Regions from separate parts of the Homo sapiens genome. Here region 2 is linked to region 1. The links come from fine-mapping of genetic effects on gene expression. A gene starts in region 1. The other region holds a variant in brackets. All regions are shown on one strand. Distances are between the middles of the regions. Region 1 holds the start of SNED1 (sushi, nidogen and EGF like domains 1). Region 2 holds the start of SNED1-AS1 (SNED1 antisense RNA 1).

The links. PIP is the estimated chance that this variant, and not a neighbour inherited with it, causes the effect.
Region 2: its variant is fine-mapped to the expression of SNED1 in tibial nerve (GTEx, PIP above 0.99). The same link has a PIP of 0.9 or more in breast and nucleus accumbens.

The regions. Positions count from the first base shown.
Region 1 is chr2:240,994,419-241,002,735 of GRCh38, forward strand. SNED1 (sushi, nidogen and EGF like domains 1) reads left to right here and starts at 4,200. Exons shown (of 32, transcript NM_001080437.3): 1 at 4,200-4,632. The coding sequence starts at 4,420. RefSeq lists a silencer at 3,832-4,251.
Region 2 is chr2:241,058,854-241,067,170 of GRCh38, forward strand. It overlaps SNED1 (sushi, nidogen and EGF like domains 1), which reads left to right. Exons shown (of 32, transcript NM_001080437.3): 17 at 3,938-4,051; 18 at 4,734-4,847; 19 at 5,159-5,272; 20 at 5,991-6,104; 21 at 6,446-6,742. SNED1-AS1 (SNED1 antisense RNA 1) reads right to left here and starts at 5,265. Exons shown (of 3, transcript NR_187212.1): 1 at 5,227-5,265. It also overlaps a transcript of MTERF4 not described here. RefSeq lists a silencer at 5,214-5,373. The variant C/G (reference allele first, on the strand shown) is at 4,337.

The sequences.
Region 1 (8,317 bases):
GCCCAGCTCCTGTCTGAGACAGAACACAAAATCCCTTCGGATTCCTGCCACCCTTGAGGCTCGCCGAGGAATGTGGGGCACGCAGGGGCTGTTGGAGGGTCCCATCCAGCCTCTGGCCAGGAAGCTCCGACGCTCTGACAGGCCCTCAGGTGCCTGGGTCCGGGGGCAGCACCCTTTGCAGGCATCCAGGGGTTGCAGACCAACACAGGGAGGGGACAAATGGGAGAGGAAGGCCCCCTGGGGAGGGGGCACTGGAGGAGGGGCCATGTTGAACGCAGACGGCGGCACCCAAGGACAGGCCAGCCCTCTGAAGCACCCCAGGTTGAGGGAAGCACAAGCTTTGGTTGGCTGAAGCCGGGGCAGGAAGCCGGCCAGCTGGAACCAAGGGCATTGTTTATCTGGGCTTCCAAAACATTCATACTTTTCAAATTAATTGCAAAAAATGTTAGCAGGGAAACATAGAAAGGAGAATGTAACCACCACCATAATCTGTGACCTGCAGAGCCCCGAGGTGACACCCAACTCTCCCTTTTTCTAGCACACGTGTGCTTAGGACGGTTGAGGCCATAGCGTGGATGCTACTCAGAGTACTATTTTTTAAAACTTTTGCTTGACACAATACCGTTAGAGTTTTCCCGAATCACTAAAAACGTCTCAGAGCATGGTTTTTTTGCTGCGGAAGCTCCGGGGCATCGGAGGACCCTGGGCCTGAGTGTCCCTCCACTGCTGGCTGTCCCTGCCATCCTGGAGCCCACAGAGAATGGGGCTCTGTCCTGTCTTGGGCACTCAGGAGATGGACAAGGCTCTCAACGGGAGGCAGGGTCTCGTCATCCCCAGGACAGGGAGAGCCGATGCCTGAGCCCACGCAGCAGTGAACATCCTGGGAAGGAAGTGTTGAACCCCAGTCCCATCGTTTCCCTAAGAGCAACCACAGAAGTCCCGTCATGGGAGTCAATGTGTGTGCGGCTCCGTGTGCATGAGAAGAGGAGGTACAGGGCAGGCTGCATGGCCCCCACACTCCCTCAGGGCCAACTGCACCAAGACCCCAACCAGCCACACAGGACAGTGACCAGGTGAGCAGGTGGAGCGGCCCTTGGTCCCTGTGACCTCCTGGCCTCATTCCGGAGCATGTGGAGGTTTACTTGGGATCAGCGCTTCTGGGGCAGGGGACCTGCACTCCACCTGCCACTTCTGGGAGAGAAGGAGAGAAAGTTAGGGTGGGCTACAGCCAGCCAGCCCCTGCCCCTGGCAGCTCAGGCCTGAACCCCCAGGATCTTCCACCCTGTGAAGACCAAACAGGCCCAGCCAACCAGGTGCAGGTTGGGGAGGGCACCCCCACCTTGGCCTGCGTGGAGCCCCGAGTCCTGGGGCATCCTGAGGGCAGCTCCCGGGGCACCCCATCTAAATTGCACACACGCTCAGGCCCTAAATTAAAATGTCACAGGCCGGTTGGGGAGGCTCGGGTTTCCTGGCCACAGAACATGAGCCTGCTTGATAAAACAATTTTGGTTTTGATAAATGTGGATTTTCTGTGGCAGAGACAAAGGCGCCCTTGAGTCCAGAGGGGAGCCTAAAACAGCACATTGCTGAAAAGTATTTCCTGATAATATTTTTAGCACCTGAGAAAAACATTTTTTTTTCTCTTTTTTGCCTGCAGAGTTGTGTTGTTTTTTTTTTGTTTTTTTTTTTTTTAATGAAATGTAATGCCCAGCAGCAGCGGGGCCTTTTGTTAACCCCCAGCTCCCCGGGCCCGGCTGAAAATCTGCACAGGGTGCAGGCCGAGGCTGGTCAGCAGGGTACAGGCCCGAGGAAGTGTGGCCTCTCTGGGCCATGAGCAGGGTCTGGCCCACTGCCAGCCACGCCCCAGGCCCATGAGCTCTGACTCTCTGGGACGAGGACGGGCCTGAGCGTTTCCAGCACTGCTCAGCGACCCCCGTGAGGCCCACCAGCCCACCCGCCTGAAGAAACAGGCCTCCACTCGGTGCAGCCACTGAGTGCCACTGTGTGCCCCAAGGTGCCCTGGGCGGCCCTGCCCCCAAGTTGACCCAAACCCAGCCCAGAAATGGGTTGTTACCCAGGTCCCTGTCTTGTGTGCTCAAGAGAAGGTCAGCAGTGGGGAGAAGGGCGCCTGGCCTGGGCAGCTGGCTGGGAGGCAGCACCCCAGGCTGGGCTCTGAGAGCAGAGCAGGAGCATGTGGTGGGAAGTGGATGGGTAGTAGGGACAGGGCAGGAGGTGGGCCAGCCCTAGTGGGGGTCAAAGCCTCACGTCCCCATGACAACACCTCTTCAGCGGAGAAATCCTGCCCTGGGGTTGGCACTGCCGCCTCCCACCTTCGCAAACTCACCGGAGGGGCCTTCCAGCCAGGCCCCAAATGCACTGAAAAGAGGGTAGAGGGCTGCCAGGTTTTTCTAGAAAAAAGACAAATAGAAAAGCGTTCTCCCTGATTCCCGCCACGGTGACGCCTGGCAGCTCTGTTCCCAACGCTGCTACATGGGGCCTTGTCCTGACTCCACGGCCTGTGCCAGCCAGAGGTGGGAGCAGCCCTCCCTGACCAGGGAGGCCAGGGCTGGGCTGAGGAAGGGGTTAAAGCATGTTCTTGAGGCCCCACGTATGGGCATATGCTGCCTCCGTGCATGTGAATAAGTATGCATGTGTGCGTGGACGTGTGTGCATGTGCGTGGAGACATGTCTCTCCTTGCCAGGCTCTCACCGAGAGCCGGCCTCAAGTAGGGATTCTACAGTTCCACGCCCTCTCTGGTGCCTCCCTCCAAAGACAGGAGGCCTTGACCTTTCTGGCCCTGGAACCATGGCTGTGCTGCTGTCCTGGAGCTCTGAAAGCTGGGACGGTGACCTAAGGGCTAACTGCGGGACAGAGCCCTTCCCCTCCCAGGCCCAGTTTGCCTCTCTGCAAACAGAATTGCCACCCCATGCAGGGTGGGAGAGGCGCCAGGGGCAAGCTTTCAGGAGGTGCCAGTGCAGGGTCAGCTCCTCCTTAACAATTCTGCACCCGGCCCTGACACCAAGTCTAAAGGGTCATGAACCTCTGAGTGAAAACACCAAGTGCAGGATCTGTGAGAACCGGCAACACCCAGTCACACGCAGAGAACCCTCCGCTGCTTCTTAAAAATAACATTGACTGTGCCTGGCTCTCACTGAAAAACAACACGTGCTCACTTGAGATATTTCAGAAGATACAAACGCAAAGACAAACAAAAAACCACCCAGCACCTCAGTGGTAGATGCAGTTACCATCAGCCCGGCCTTTCCTGCTTGTCTTCGAGGGGTGCACTCTTATCTTTGGGGGCCCCAGTGTGGCACGCAGCCAACACCACCCAACACCAGGATCTAAGAGAAGAGACCACGGTGGGCCGGGTGAGTTCCAGGAATCAGACCCTGCCATGGGCCTGGGGACATAGAGGTGGTCCCGGCTGAGGCCCTGAGGAAGGACAGACAGGCAGCCCAGGCCAGCAGCCCAAGAGACAGGGGGCAGGGCTGGCAGGCCACAGGGTGGGGACCCTGAATTCAAATACTGGGACTCAGAGTCCTGCCCCCACCTGCCAAGGCCGGTGTCATGCACGCACTTGCCCCCAGGGCCTGAGTGGGTCAGTCTTCCCCACGGAGGGTTTGCTTTACCCAGGGGTCGCCCCGAGGTCCCGAGCCTCCCAGGAATTTCTCCTGATGCGGCCACGCAGATGCAAACACTTTGTTCCATGCCTCCTAGTCTCCGGCCCGGGCTCTTCCTCACACAGACCCAGGCAGGGAGTGGGCTCCGGGGTTAGTCTGCCCCTGTGGCTGGAAGCCTGGCGTCCCCATGCTCAGGGCTGGGAAGGGGGCAGCACGGAACGGGTTCATTCAGGCACTGCCTGGCCAGGGTCCCCTCCCGCCCCCCGCGTGATGACACGCCTTCAGGGCGGGCCCAGCGTCTCAGGCCTTAGGGACACAGGTCTGTCCCAGGACGGCACTGAGGGCCCAGGCGCCTCCACCAGGGTAGGGACCCAGGGCGGAGCATGGCCCCACCACAGGGCGCGCGCCCGCAGAGCCCTCACCTTGCCTGTGCCCACGCCAGGGGACTGAGCTCCCCGCGCGCCCGCGCCCTCCCACGGGGCCTGGCGCTTTAAGAGACGCCCGATTTGCATGGCCCCGCCCCCCCGAGTGACCGCCGGGCTGGATATTTAAATCGTGGCCCCAGGGGCGGGGCTGGCCCCGAACGCGGTCCCGCCCGGCGCTTTCCTCTGCGGAGCTGCGGCGAGAGCGCGGCCCGGCCGAACGGGCGCGGGACGCGGAGCCCCCGACGGCGCGGCCAGCGGGCGCGCCCGCGCTCCCCGCACCCCGCCTGGCCCTGCCGGCCACCCCCGCGCGCAGCCTAGTCCCCCAGCGCCCTGCTCCGCCAGCGCCCCGTCCCGCCCGCACACCTCCGCGATGCGGCACGGCGTCGCCTGGGCGCTGCTGGTGGCCGCGGCCCTGGGGCTTGGGGCGCGCGGGGTGCGCGGCGCGGTGGCCCTTGCCGACTTCTACCCGTTCGGCGCCGAGCGCGGCGACGCCGTCACCCCCAAGCAGGACGACGGCGGCTCGGGGCTGCGGCCGCTCTCGGTGCCCTTCCCGTTCTTCGGTGCCGAGCACTCCGGACTCTACGTGAGTAACCCCCGGGCTCGCGGGGCGCCCGGGAGGGGAGGGAGCTGCGCCCCGGCCGCTGCCCGCCGGGCCCGGACTCCCGCCGCCGCCGCCAGCCACTTGGCACCGGGGCGGCCCGAGGTGGAATGAGGACAGCGCTTCCTCCTCGGCGGCCAAGGCCGGACAGCGGCCCGCGGGAGAGGCGCGCGGGCGGGGCGGGGGCGGCAGCCGCCGGGCACCGAGGCGGGGGCGAGTGGAGCGCGGCGCCCCGGCCCCTGCCAGACCTGCCGAGCGCGTCTTCCCGGCGCCTGATTCCCAGGGGAGAGCAGGGGTCCTGGTACTGCCCTGGTTTTCACACATGGCAATGTGGCCGTGGGCACGGGCTTCCCGGGCCTCAGTTTCCCAAGTGGGGCGCCGGGCCTGCGAAGGTTGCAGCCCCTCCTTGGGCCATTTCAGCCCCGCCCCCCGTGGACGCCAGTGCGGCCCAGAGCCAGGAGGCTGGACCCCTTGCCCAGGCGCTCAGGGCAGGGCCTGCTTCTTCGCTGACCCTCCTAGGCGGGCTAGCAACAGGCTTGCCCCTCCCTGCCGTCCTCTCCGCAGTCTGGGGGCTGGCCGCTCAGGCTCAGACTCTCCAAACAGGACTCCCAGTGGGACTCCTGGGGCCAGGGACTCATGACAGCAGGCTCAGCTCAGCTGAAGGAACAGGCCCGAGTGCCGGTTCTGTCTCCATGGCTCCCAGAGTGTGACCCCAGGCCAAGCCCTTATGGCAGCCCAGGGAATGAAATGCACCTGGTAACTGCATGGAGCACTCGCCCTGAGTAGGCCACGGTGCACTGGTACCTGGTGGTTCCCTGAAACACCCCAGATCATATCTAGAAAACTGCTGGGCCAGCCTCAAGTAGAGTCCCCTCCAGCTCCGTCACCACGGCCACCTCCACCATCAGCCCTCTCATACCCTCGCCCACCTCCAGCCTCAACCCACTGCCAGCCACATCGCCTCTGCCATCTGTGCTGCCCGGAGTAACACCACCTGTACTGCCAACTCCTCCGTCAACACCACCTCCTTCAACCCCACCACCAGCAGCACTGCCTCCACCACCACCTTCCCCATGGTCCCCAGCTTCCCGTCGTCACCATCCACATCCTCTGCATGGTTGTCATCATCCCTCCCCACCTCCATCCACAGGGCCTCCTCCACCACATGCCCTCTAGTGCGCCTCCCACCCCACAACTGCCAACACCATCCACAGCGCCCACTGCGTTTTCCACACCTGCTCAGGAAGGCCTCCCCACCTCGGTGGCAGCACTGGGTGACCTGACTGGTGGGAGGGGCAGCCATGCTGTCGGTGCTACCCCCTGAAAGTCCCTCTGGACCGGGACTTGGACAGAGGAACGGGACTGACTCCTGGAAGTACGAAGTGGGTAGGACAGAATGGTGCTCAGCGTTGGCCCGAGCTGGAGGAGGCCTGTCCACTTGAGGTATGGGACACTCACATTGGCACCATCCGAACAGAACTCAAGAGGCTCCTTAAGCATTTGGGCCAGGCTCAGCTTTCCCACTCACAGTCACAGGTGAAAATATTATTAAAATGGTTAACCCACTTAACAGCCTCACCAAAAACATCTGCCCTTGCCAGAGCAACTAGGGGAAACAGCTCTAACGTGGGAAGATCTGCTAGGAGAACTAGGGTTTCGTCAGAAATGAACCTTCTGGCTGCTAACAAAACATTTATCTCCATCGGAGCTTTTTCCTGAAACAAAGATATTATTTGAAAACCATTTGCCGATGTGGACACAGTGCCTGCAGTGCACTTCACCTTTCTGTTTGCTCAGCAGGAGGCTTGAGGCTGCGTTGCCCAGGACACCTTGCCTGAAGTAACTGTGCGGACTCTGTGGTCAAGCAGGGAGAGAGAAAGGGGTGCTTGGCAGCAGGTTAGGGCTGAAGCCAGGTGGAAAGAAGGGAGGCATTTGTTCTGAAGGAAGTGGACCTGCCTGGGGCCTCCCACGCCCACCCAGGCCGAGCGGACCCTCTTCTGAGGCCCCTGGCTCTGGCCCTTGTCCAGCTCCAGTCTATAGGGGCCTCGTGTCTGCTGGCCCTGGACTCAGACTCCCATGTCAGGCCCAGCCAGGACCCTCCAGCCCCCATCCCACTGCAGTGACCTCTGCGCTCCTCCGCCCCCAGCCTGTCGCTTGACCAAGAGTAGGCTTGTTGTCTGAATGAATGAATGTGCCTCCCTCTGACACTGCCTGCAAGTCACAGGTAGAAATTAGAAGTGCTCTTGCATGAGATGGGTGCTTCTTCTGTCTTCATCAGAAATAGCACATGGATTACTGCCCTAGCAAGACAGCTCTGCCACACATGGAGTGGCCCCCTTTCCAGAAGGGACCCATTGTTTTGCTTCTTTCTCATGTCATAGTAGCTGTATGTGTGTGGTAAGTCGTAAGGCTCTGAAAAGTGTTGAAAGTGCATTTTATTGCTAAGGTTCTACACACAGACAAAGATAATGCAGCCGAGGAGCGTGGCGCGCCGAGGAGTGTGGCGTGCTGAGGAGTGTGGCATGCTGCCGCTATCCTGCCATGCAGGAACTGCCAGTGTCTGCATTAAGACGGAGCTTGCCGCGGTCTGTGGGGCTTATGCAGGTGGAGTGGTTTCCTAGGGGCAGGTGCAGGGAATGAGAGACGAAATCTTCCTGGTGCCCCCTACACTGAAGCTCCTGGCTCCAAGCACTGCCCCCATCCACAGCATGGTCTCTGGGCCATGGGAGGATCTCAGTTTCTTTGGCATCAGGACCCCCGACAGAGCCCTGAGCAGAGGCAGGGAGGATTTGAGGGTCAAGAGTGGGTGGTGCCCTGCAGAGCCCGCAGGCAAGAAGGAGGAATGTGGACAGTCAGACTGACCCTCGCTGGTGCTGGCTAAACCCCCACTCTGTGCCCTGAGGCTTCGTGCCACACCGCAAGTCTGCTGGCTCTGGCTCTGCACAACATTACCATCCAGGCACAGTCCCGGCCCTACCCCTCCCAGAACACGGAGCCCAGGGCAGCTGCTCTGGTGTGGGAGTTCACATGCAGCCTGTGACCTTTGCCTGGTCATTTCCTCCCTGAGCCTCTGTCTCCCCATCTGTGTGGTGAAGCTCCCCCATCAGGTCATACCTGTGACACACCCCATCACTGTCACGGTTGTGTGGTCGCCAGCTCCAAGCCATCTGGAAAATCCACCCTGACCCACAGGGACTGTCTCAGTGGGACCGAGGCCTGCGCATGAGTGGATCTGGGAGCAGACATGTGGGGAGAAATCACTGCCATCTCTGCTCTCTTCTGAGCTCATGGAACACCCCAGCAAATGCAGGAGCCCCTTGGCTGGGAGGAGGGTCCTGGGCTTCCCCTTGGCTGCCCTATTCACTGAGGTTCCCGGGCTGGCCCACCCCCTGCTATGGGCTTGGCCAAGGTGGTCCTGCCCCTCATCAGCATGCCCTTCTTGCTGCTGCCTGGGTGTGACGGAAGCAGATGGAAGGGGATCCTGGGGAAGTGGAATGGGGCTGGAGTCGAGGAGGATGCTGGAGTGAGAGAGCCTGATGACTCCAGGTCAAGGCCATGAGCCCAGGACAGCTGTGATCTGCCTGGACCTCACAGGCAGCCCCTGAGAGGATGGAGCAGGACGTCATGCCCAGTGCAGATGAGGAAACCGAGGCTCAGAATGCAGATTCAG
Region 2 (8,317 bases), 64 kb after region 1:
GCAGGAGAATGGTGTGAACCTGGGAGGCGGAGCTTGCAGTGAGCCAAGATCGCACCACTGCACTCCAGCCTGGGTGACACAGCAAGACTCTGTTTCAAAAAAAAAAAAATCATTAACATTGATAAACCCTAGCTAGACTGATCAGGAAAAAAAGAGAGAAATTAGCAAGATCAAAATAGAAAAGGAGATCCTACCTCGTGTTTACAGTGGAGTCCTTTAAACATTAAAGATCCTGCCAGTACTTAAAGGACAAGAGAACACCTATGAGCAATTTTAGGCCAATGTATCTGACAACTTAGGGGAAATGGATACCCTGAAAGACAAATTACCAGAACTGACACAAGAATAATAGAAAACATATACAGCCTTATATCTGTTACACTTAATTTGTAATTAAAAACCTTCCTCAGAACAGCTGTGTCAGATTGCTTCACGGATGAATTCTACCAAATGTTTAAGAAAGGAATGATACCAACTTTGTACAACCTCTTTTAGAAAGAGCTACATATTTTTTAGAAAATCTAGGAGGGAAGAACACTTCTCATTTGATACCAAACTCAATTGATACCCAACTTATTTGATAACTTCTCAACTCACCTTGATACCAAAACCAGACACAGACACTACAAAATTTGAAGTTACAGACTGGTATCTCTCAAGAACATAGACACAACAATCCAAACAAAATATTACTAAGTCAAGCTCAGTACTATATAAAAGAATGATACAGTCATGACCAAGTGGGATTTTTCTCAAGGACACAGGTTGGTCTAACTTTTAATGTCAATCAATGTACTTCATCATATTAGGAGATGAAAGAGAAAACTATATATCTCAATAGATGCAGGAAATTATTTGACAAATTCAACTGGTATTTAAAATTCTTAGTCAACTAAGAGTAGAAGATAATTTCCTCAACCTGATAAAGGACATCCATTAAAAACCTCAGCTACCAGTGTACTCAGTGGTGAAAGACTCCACCTGGAATCCGTACAAGGCAAGGTGTCCATTCAGTACGTATTCCCAGCATTTTCCTGGAGGCCCTAGACAGTGCCAGATGACAAGAAAAGGAAATAAAAGGAAGGAAAGGAAGAAAGAATTAGAGATCACATGATTGTATGCATAGAAAATCCTAAGGAAATTCTACAAAAGAAGCTATAGAACTAACAAGTGAATTCAACTAGATCCCAGGATACAGGGTCAGTATATAGAACCTGTTGTAGCAGTGAACACTTTGAAATGAAAGTGTTACATTAATAGCATCAAAAACATGATAAATTTTTAAATGCGTAAAAGGAACTATAAACATAAATGTAAAAGCTAAAACTATAAACTTTTTTTTTTTTTTTGAGACAGAATCTCACTCTTGCCCAGGCTGGAGTGCAGTGGCACAATCTCGGCTCACTGCAACCTCCGCCTCCCTGGTTCAAGCGATTCTCCTGCCTCAGTCTCCCAAGTAGCTGGGATTACAGGCACTCACCACCATACCCAGCTAATTTTTGTATTCCTAATAGAGACGGGGTTTCACCATGTTGGCCAGGCTGGTCTTGAACTCCTGACCTCTGGTGATCCACCCGCCTTGGGCTCCCAAAGTGCTGGATTACAGGCGCGAGCCACCATGCCCGTCCCTAACTATAAACTTCTAAAAGAAAGAAATACAAAAGCATATGAGAAAATATTCATGAGAGCTGGAATACAATGGTTTTGTACTTGGAAAAATATTATATTGGTTCTCTATTTTTCATACACTGGAATTAAATCCAGGTGGATTAAAGACCTAAATGTTTCTTTAAAAAAAAACTATACAGGGCCGGGCACATGGCTCATGCCTATAATCCCAGCACTTTGGGAGGCCAAGACAGGAGTTTTGTTTGAGCCCAGCCTGTGCAGCATAGAGAGACCCCCAACTCTACAAAAATAAACTAAAATTAACCAGGCGTAGTGGCATGCACCTGTAGTCCCAGCTACTCAGGAGGCTAGGGTGGGAAGATCACTTGAAACCGGAGTTCAAAGCTGCAGTGAACTGTGATTGCACCGCTGCATTCCAGCTTGGGGGACAGGGTGAGACCCTGTCTCAAAAAAAAACAACCAAAAAAAACTATATAATTTTGTGTGGAAAATATAGGTAAATATATTTTTGACTTTGGGGTAGTGAAAGACTCCTTAAGCCACAAAAAGAATTTAAAAAGAAATGATGAACATACTTGACCATATGAAAATTAGAACCTAAATCCATAAACCTTAAGAAAGTGAAATCTAAACTACAAACTGGGAGAAGAGATAAATAGTCTCAAGACTACATGAAGAACTCTGATAAATCAATGAGAAAACAACCTAATAGGAAAATAGAAAAAAAAACATGCATAGGCATTTCATGGAAGAAGAGATACAAAAGGCCAACAAACATAAAAAGAAATATTCTATTTCATTAGTAATCAGGGAAATGCAAATCAAAAGTGCAATGAGGTACATTCAGCTGGTAAATTTTCAGAAGTCTGAAAAGCCTATACCGGTGAGAATGTGGATCAACAAGATTTCTTATGCATTGCTGGCAAGAGTATAAATTGCTAGAAGCACTTTGAAAACAATGTGGCACTCTGCCTGTTGAGCAATCTGCCCACTGTTGCTCATTTACGTCAACTGTGTTCCAGCAATTGCACTTCTGGGTATAAACCTAAGAAAAACTTCACGTCTGCACCAGGAGATGGGAAAGAATATACACAGCAACATTTTTTGTAAAAGCAAAAAGTCTAGGCTGGGCGTAGACTCATGCCTGTAATCCCAGCACTTTGGGAGGCTGAGGCAGGCGGATCACGAAGTCAGGAGTTCGAGACCAGCCTGGCCAACATAGTGAAACCCCATCTCTACTAAAAATACAAAAATTAGTCGGGCATGGTGGTGGGCGCCTTTAGTCCCAGCTACTCGGGAGGCGGAGGTTGTGGTGAGCCAAGATCATGCCACTGCACTCCAGCCTGGGCAACGAGCGAAACTCCATCCCCCCAAAAAAAAAAAAAGAAAAAAAGAAAACAAAAAAAGGAAAAAGTCTAGAACCAACCCAAAGACCCAGCCAGTGAGAATGGGTGAAGTATGATATAACCACACTGTGTAATGTTATTCAGCAGTGAAAATCTATGAACCACAGTGACCTACAGTGTGGAGTTCTCTTCTTCATATAATGCTGAGAGAAGACAATATATATCATGATGTACTATGAATAAAGTTCATAAACAACAAAAACATTCACTATTGTTTAGGCAATTTATAAAATTTTTAAGCTAATTTTAATTACATATTTTACTGCCAGAAAACCTAGTTTTTAAAGACAAGGAAATTATAAACCCAGAGATTCTTATCGCAAGGGAAGAGAAGGGTACACGGTCGGATGAGCCCATTCAGCATTCTGGCTGCCGGGGTGGCTGCTAGTCCCAGATGTCACTAAGTCATTACCATTTATTTACTTTTTAAGCATGAAATTAAACTTTAAAAAAATAAATATTTAAATTCAGGAGCACAACTCCCGCTTGAAAAGAAAGCTGTGGTGAATCATTTAAAACCAAGATTTGTCCCAGATGGACTGGTTTCACAGGTGACTATTATACATTGAAATGGCAAGATGGGACATGAGACATTTTCTGTCAAACCCCTGAGGCCTTTGTCCTGTCGGCCTGAACCACTGGAATTAAGTCCCACAGCGTCTTCTGGGAGCCCTGGGGTGGTTTCAAGCCCGCCCTGCTGCTTCACAGACACAGCCAGGCACTGAGCCCCAGGCCCACTGCCCTGCCCCGACTCCAAGGATATCCAGCCCTGGTCTCTGGCCTTTCCAACCACTGATGATGTATCATCGAATTCTGTCTGGCCCCTCAGGACTAGTTTATGTGCATCTTAATTTGGCTTAATCGTGGCCACATTGCTTTATTCTTGGGCTCTCTCCTCTCAGAAATCGATGAGTGCCGGTCTCAGCCGTGCCTGCATGGGGGCTCTTGTCAGGACCGCGTTGCTGGGTACCTGTGCCTCTGCAGCACAGGCTATGAGGGCGCCCACTGTGAGCTGGGTAAGAGGGGCCCTGGCCCCGCTGGGGTGACAGCTGCAGCACACTGGCCATGTGCCTGAGGCACTGGGTCCCCCGGACAGGTCTCTGTCTGGATGGCCAGGGTGGCCACTGCATGCTTTCTCGGGCCCCTGCCAGCTCTGACATCCAAGACAAAGATTTTACAAATATCCCTTCCTGCACCTCCCCAGGGGAGACTGAGAGCCCAGCTGAGAAATGCTGGCCTGGCTTCAGGGCGCAGAGAAGGTGGGCGTCGGAGAGGGCAGGTCACAGTCTCTGACACCTGGT[C/G]GGTGCTTCCAGCCAGTGGAGGGAGGGGAGGCCTGCCCCATGAGCCCTGCACACTCTTGTACCTCGCTAGGGCTCTAAGCCTGAGAAACGCAGGCTCCAGGGAGGGCAAGGCCCAGGGAGCCGTGCCCAGTCGTGGCCCTGGGGAGCCTCCCATTGCGGAGTGGCCTGGAGGAAGGCATGGCCTGGAGGTGGGGCTTTGCCAGCAGGCAGTGGAGGTGGCACGCCTCCCGAGGAGGGGTGGGTTTGGGGCTGATGGAAGAAAAAGCACATGTCCTGAGTAGTTGCTCCCAGCTGGGAAAGGGGTAACTGAAGCCCCAGGAAATGCACGGAATCCTGGGGGCATGTGGGCGCCTCAGACTTGAGCCAGCAACACCCTTGACACCCCTTCTCTGTGCAGAGAGGGATGAGTGCCGAGCTCACCCGTGCAGAAATGGAGGGTCCTGCAGGAACCTCCCAGGGGCCTATGTCTGCCGGTGCCCTGCAGGCTTCGTTGGAGTCCACTGTGAGACAGGTAGGGGCTCCCTCCAGTGGGCCCCACATGCAGAGCCTGGGCCTCTGGAAGATCAGAGAGGAGGTGGGGCATCCCCACATTCCCTGCTGGGCAGGCCACCTGGGGAGAGGGACCCCCAGGGCTGCGGCCACCTTGGGAGGGAGGGGTGGAGGTGAGGGTGCTGGGGAGGGCTGAGGGGCGGGACCTGCCCACTGCCCCTCTCTCCTGGCCTCCGCCCCTAGACTCCTCCTTTCCCTTCTTCCCGCTGTCCTCTCCTCCCTCCCCCAGACTCCCCCCTTGCAGCTTGGGCCCACTCTCTGGGTGTTCTCCAGAGGTGGACGCCTGCGACTCCAGCCCCTGCCAGCATGGAGGCCGGTGTGAGAGCGGCGGCGGGGCCTACCTGTGCGTCTGCCCAGAGAGCTTCTTCGGCTACCACTGCGAGACAGGTAGGGCGGCAGGCCTGCCTGCTCCCCGCCCTCTGCCCGCCTGCTCCCCGCCCTCTGCCCGCCTGCTGCCCGCCCTCTGCCCGCCTGCTCCCCGCCCTCTGCCCGCCTGCTCCCCGCCCTCTGCCCGCCGCCTTGGAAGTCCCCTTCTCAGGCCAGTGGCCCTCCGCCTGTCTCCCTTGGTCCCACAATGGTGCCTTCTAAACCTCCCCATCTCCTGCGCTCACCCCCCAGACACCCCTCTTCACCCGAGGACACACCCAGGGGTGGGGCCTCACGTCCACACATAGGCCCTGCTGCCCTTGGACAGGCCAAGTTTCTTGCACACCCAGGTCTGGCCCCTGGCTGTCCTTCCATCTGGAACATTCTCCCTAATCAGCCCCCAGTGGGATACCTCCTGATGAGGCTTCCCTGACCACTGACCTCCCCTCCTCAAGCAGGACTGTCACTGGGGTGGTGGCCTGTCCTGTCCTGATCCAGTGTCTCCTCCCCTCAGCCAGTCCGGCTGGTGGCACTCCGCTGTGGAGGGTGGAGGAGCTGCTGGGTTGGGCCCCGCAGGGCAGTGGAGGTGGCAGAACCGAAGGGAGGCAGTAGCTGTCCTGTGCCCCCCGCCCCTCCACACCCACGCAGGAGGGACCCAGTGCCCCAGGAGCAAGGGCGGGGCTGGAGCAGGGACCCCTGGCCACGCCCCAACATACACTGCCACTTTTTCTCCCCTCAGTGAGTGACCCCTGCTTCTCCAGCCCCTGTGGGGGCCGTGGCTATTGCCTGGCCAGCAACGGCTCCCACAGCTGCACCTGCAAAGTGGGCTACACGGGCGAGGACTGCGCCAAAGGTGGGTGGCGAGGGCGCCTCCAGTGAGGGAGCCACGAGGGGGTCCCCTCTCCCTAGAGGGCCCAACGGTCTCCAAGGGCAGAGCGTCTGGCCGCTGCTTGCCCAGGCCCCTTCCCTGAGGAACAGGGAGGGGATAAAATCCCCCGGTGGGCTTGAAACACGGTCACACATTCAAAAGTGTGACCCTCCTGGAGGTACGTGGCCAGGGACAAAGAAGGACTCTGCCAGCGATGGCTGTGTCAGGCCCAAGAGCCAGACCCGGCTGAGCCGCCGACGGGAGCCAGGCATGCATAGCTAACGGCTGACCAGTCCCCTCCCCTTGTTTTGACCCAAACCCTGAAGAGCTCTTCCCACCGACGGCCCTCAAGATGGAGAGAGTGGAGGAGAGTGGGGTCTCTATCTCCTGGAACCCGCCCAATGGTCCAGCCGCCAGGCAGATGCTTGATGGCTACGCGGTCACCTACGTCTCCTCCGACGGCTCCTACCGCCGCACAGACTTTGTGGACAGGACCCGCTCCTCGCACCAGCTCCAGGCCCTGGCGGCCGGCAGGGCCTACAACATCTCCGTCTTCTCAGTGAAGCGAAACAGTAACAACAAGAATGACATCAGCAGGCCTGCCGTGCTGCTGGCCCGCACGCGTGAGTGTCCCCGAGCCTGGCCGTCCCTGCCCAGCCCCTGCCCCTCGAGGGCAGCGCTGGCCCCGGCACCTGCAGGGCGGCTGTCATGCCGTCCACCCTCCTAGTTCTTGCAGCAGCAAGACAGACAGCTGAGCTGGGGGTTGGAGGCACCGCCCTGCTGGAGACAGAGCTGTGTGGGAGTGGCCTTGGGTCCACAAGATACAGGCATGGGATTGGGGCGCATAGAATCGAGCCAAGAGTGGGAGCAGCACAACCCCCAGGCATGGAGCTAGGAAGTGGGACTGGGGAGGAATGGGGGCTTCCCAAAAGGGTCCCTAGAAGGAGCCAGTGTGGGAGACAGGGGCCGCGGGGGTGGGCTTGGGGGGGCTGGGACTCTGGGGTGCTCTGAAGGCCTGGGGAGAGTTTGAAAGAGGCACCTGCTCACAGGGATATGTAGGCGCTGAGGTGTGCTAAGGGGAGGCATCGGTGGCTCAATCGGGAAGAGCCGTGGGGCAGGCCCTAGATGGAATGACAGACCCAGAGCCTCCACCTGGAGCTGGCACTGAAAGCTGTGACCAGATGTGACCCCTGAAGAGGGGGTCCTAGGAGGAGCCTCCTCAGAGCCTGAGCCACCAAGATTGCAGGGGAGGCCCGGGTTGTGCACAGCCTGTGGGGTTGTTGCCGTGTCGGGGAGCAGAAGATGCTGAGCGCTCTAGGGAAGGCGTCAGGGCTTAGCGGGCTTGTGTGCTGCTGGGAGGGATTCTGGGAAGGAGAAAGGAGCCCTAGAACATGGCAGTGGACGGACAGGGGCAGGGCCGGAAGAAAGCAGAGGGCTGGCCTTCCACGGAGCCCGGCCGCATCAGCTAGAGCACAGGGGATCTCGGAACAGGCTGGGCAGGAACCAAGTGGGGTGCAGGGCCATGGGGCCATGGGACTCTCACCCAACATGCCTGTGGCCTCCAGACACAGGAGCAAGAATGGGGAAGGGGTGCTAGAGGCTCGAGGAAAGAGGAAAAGGTGCTGAGAGCACAGACTGCTGCGAAGTGGCGTGATGGATGGATGGGTGGGTGGGTGGCCAGGGCTTCAGGGAGGCCTAAGCATCCAGCAGGGCCCTGCGGGGCGGCCACGTGAGTTTGGTGAAACCTATGGGTAGCATGGCGGGTAGGTGGGGAGGAGCTCGGCGGTTCTCACAGGAGGAAAGCCTCCTGGCCACACCTGGGCCCTAGCTTGATGCCAATGCCAAGGGCATTGAGGGACAGGAGAAGGCATTCAAGGCAGCTTGAGCCCACCCAGAGGCCCACAAGGGCCTGTCCTGCAGGAGTTGACCACCAAGGGGCTGGAGTTCCCAACACAGCAAGGACACAGAGCACACCTCGGCCAGTGGAGAGCCTGGGCGCATGTGCGGGTGGCACTGAGCAGGTGTCAGCAGGAGCTGCCAGGGGCTGAGTAGGGGTGGCTCGCCTGGGCTGTTTTAGGAAGAAGCACCTGCAAGGCCGCCCCATGTGAGATCTGCCCTCGGAAGGTATCTGGAGTGAAGACAGAGCCCGCCCTGCCCGCTGCAGAGTTGGGGCTCCAGCCAGCCATGGTGGGTGGAAG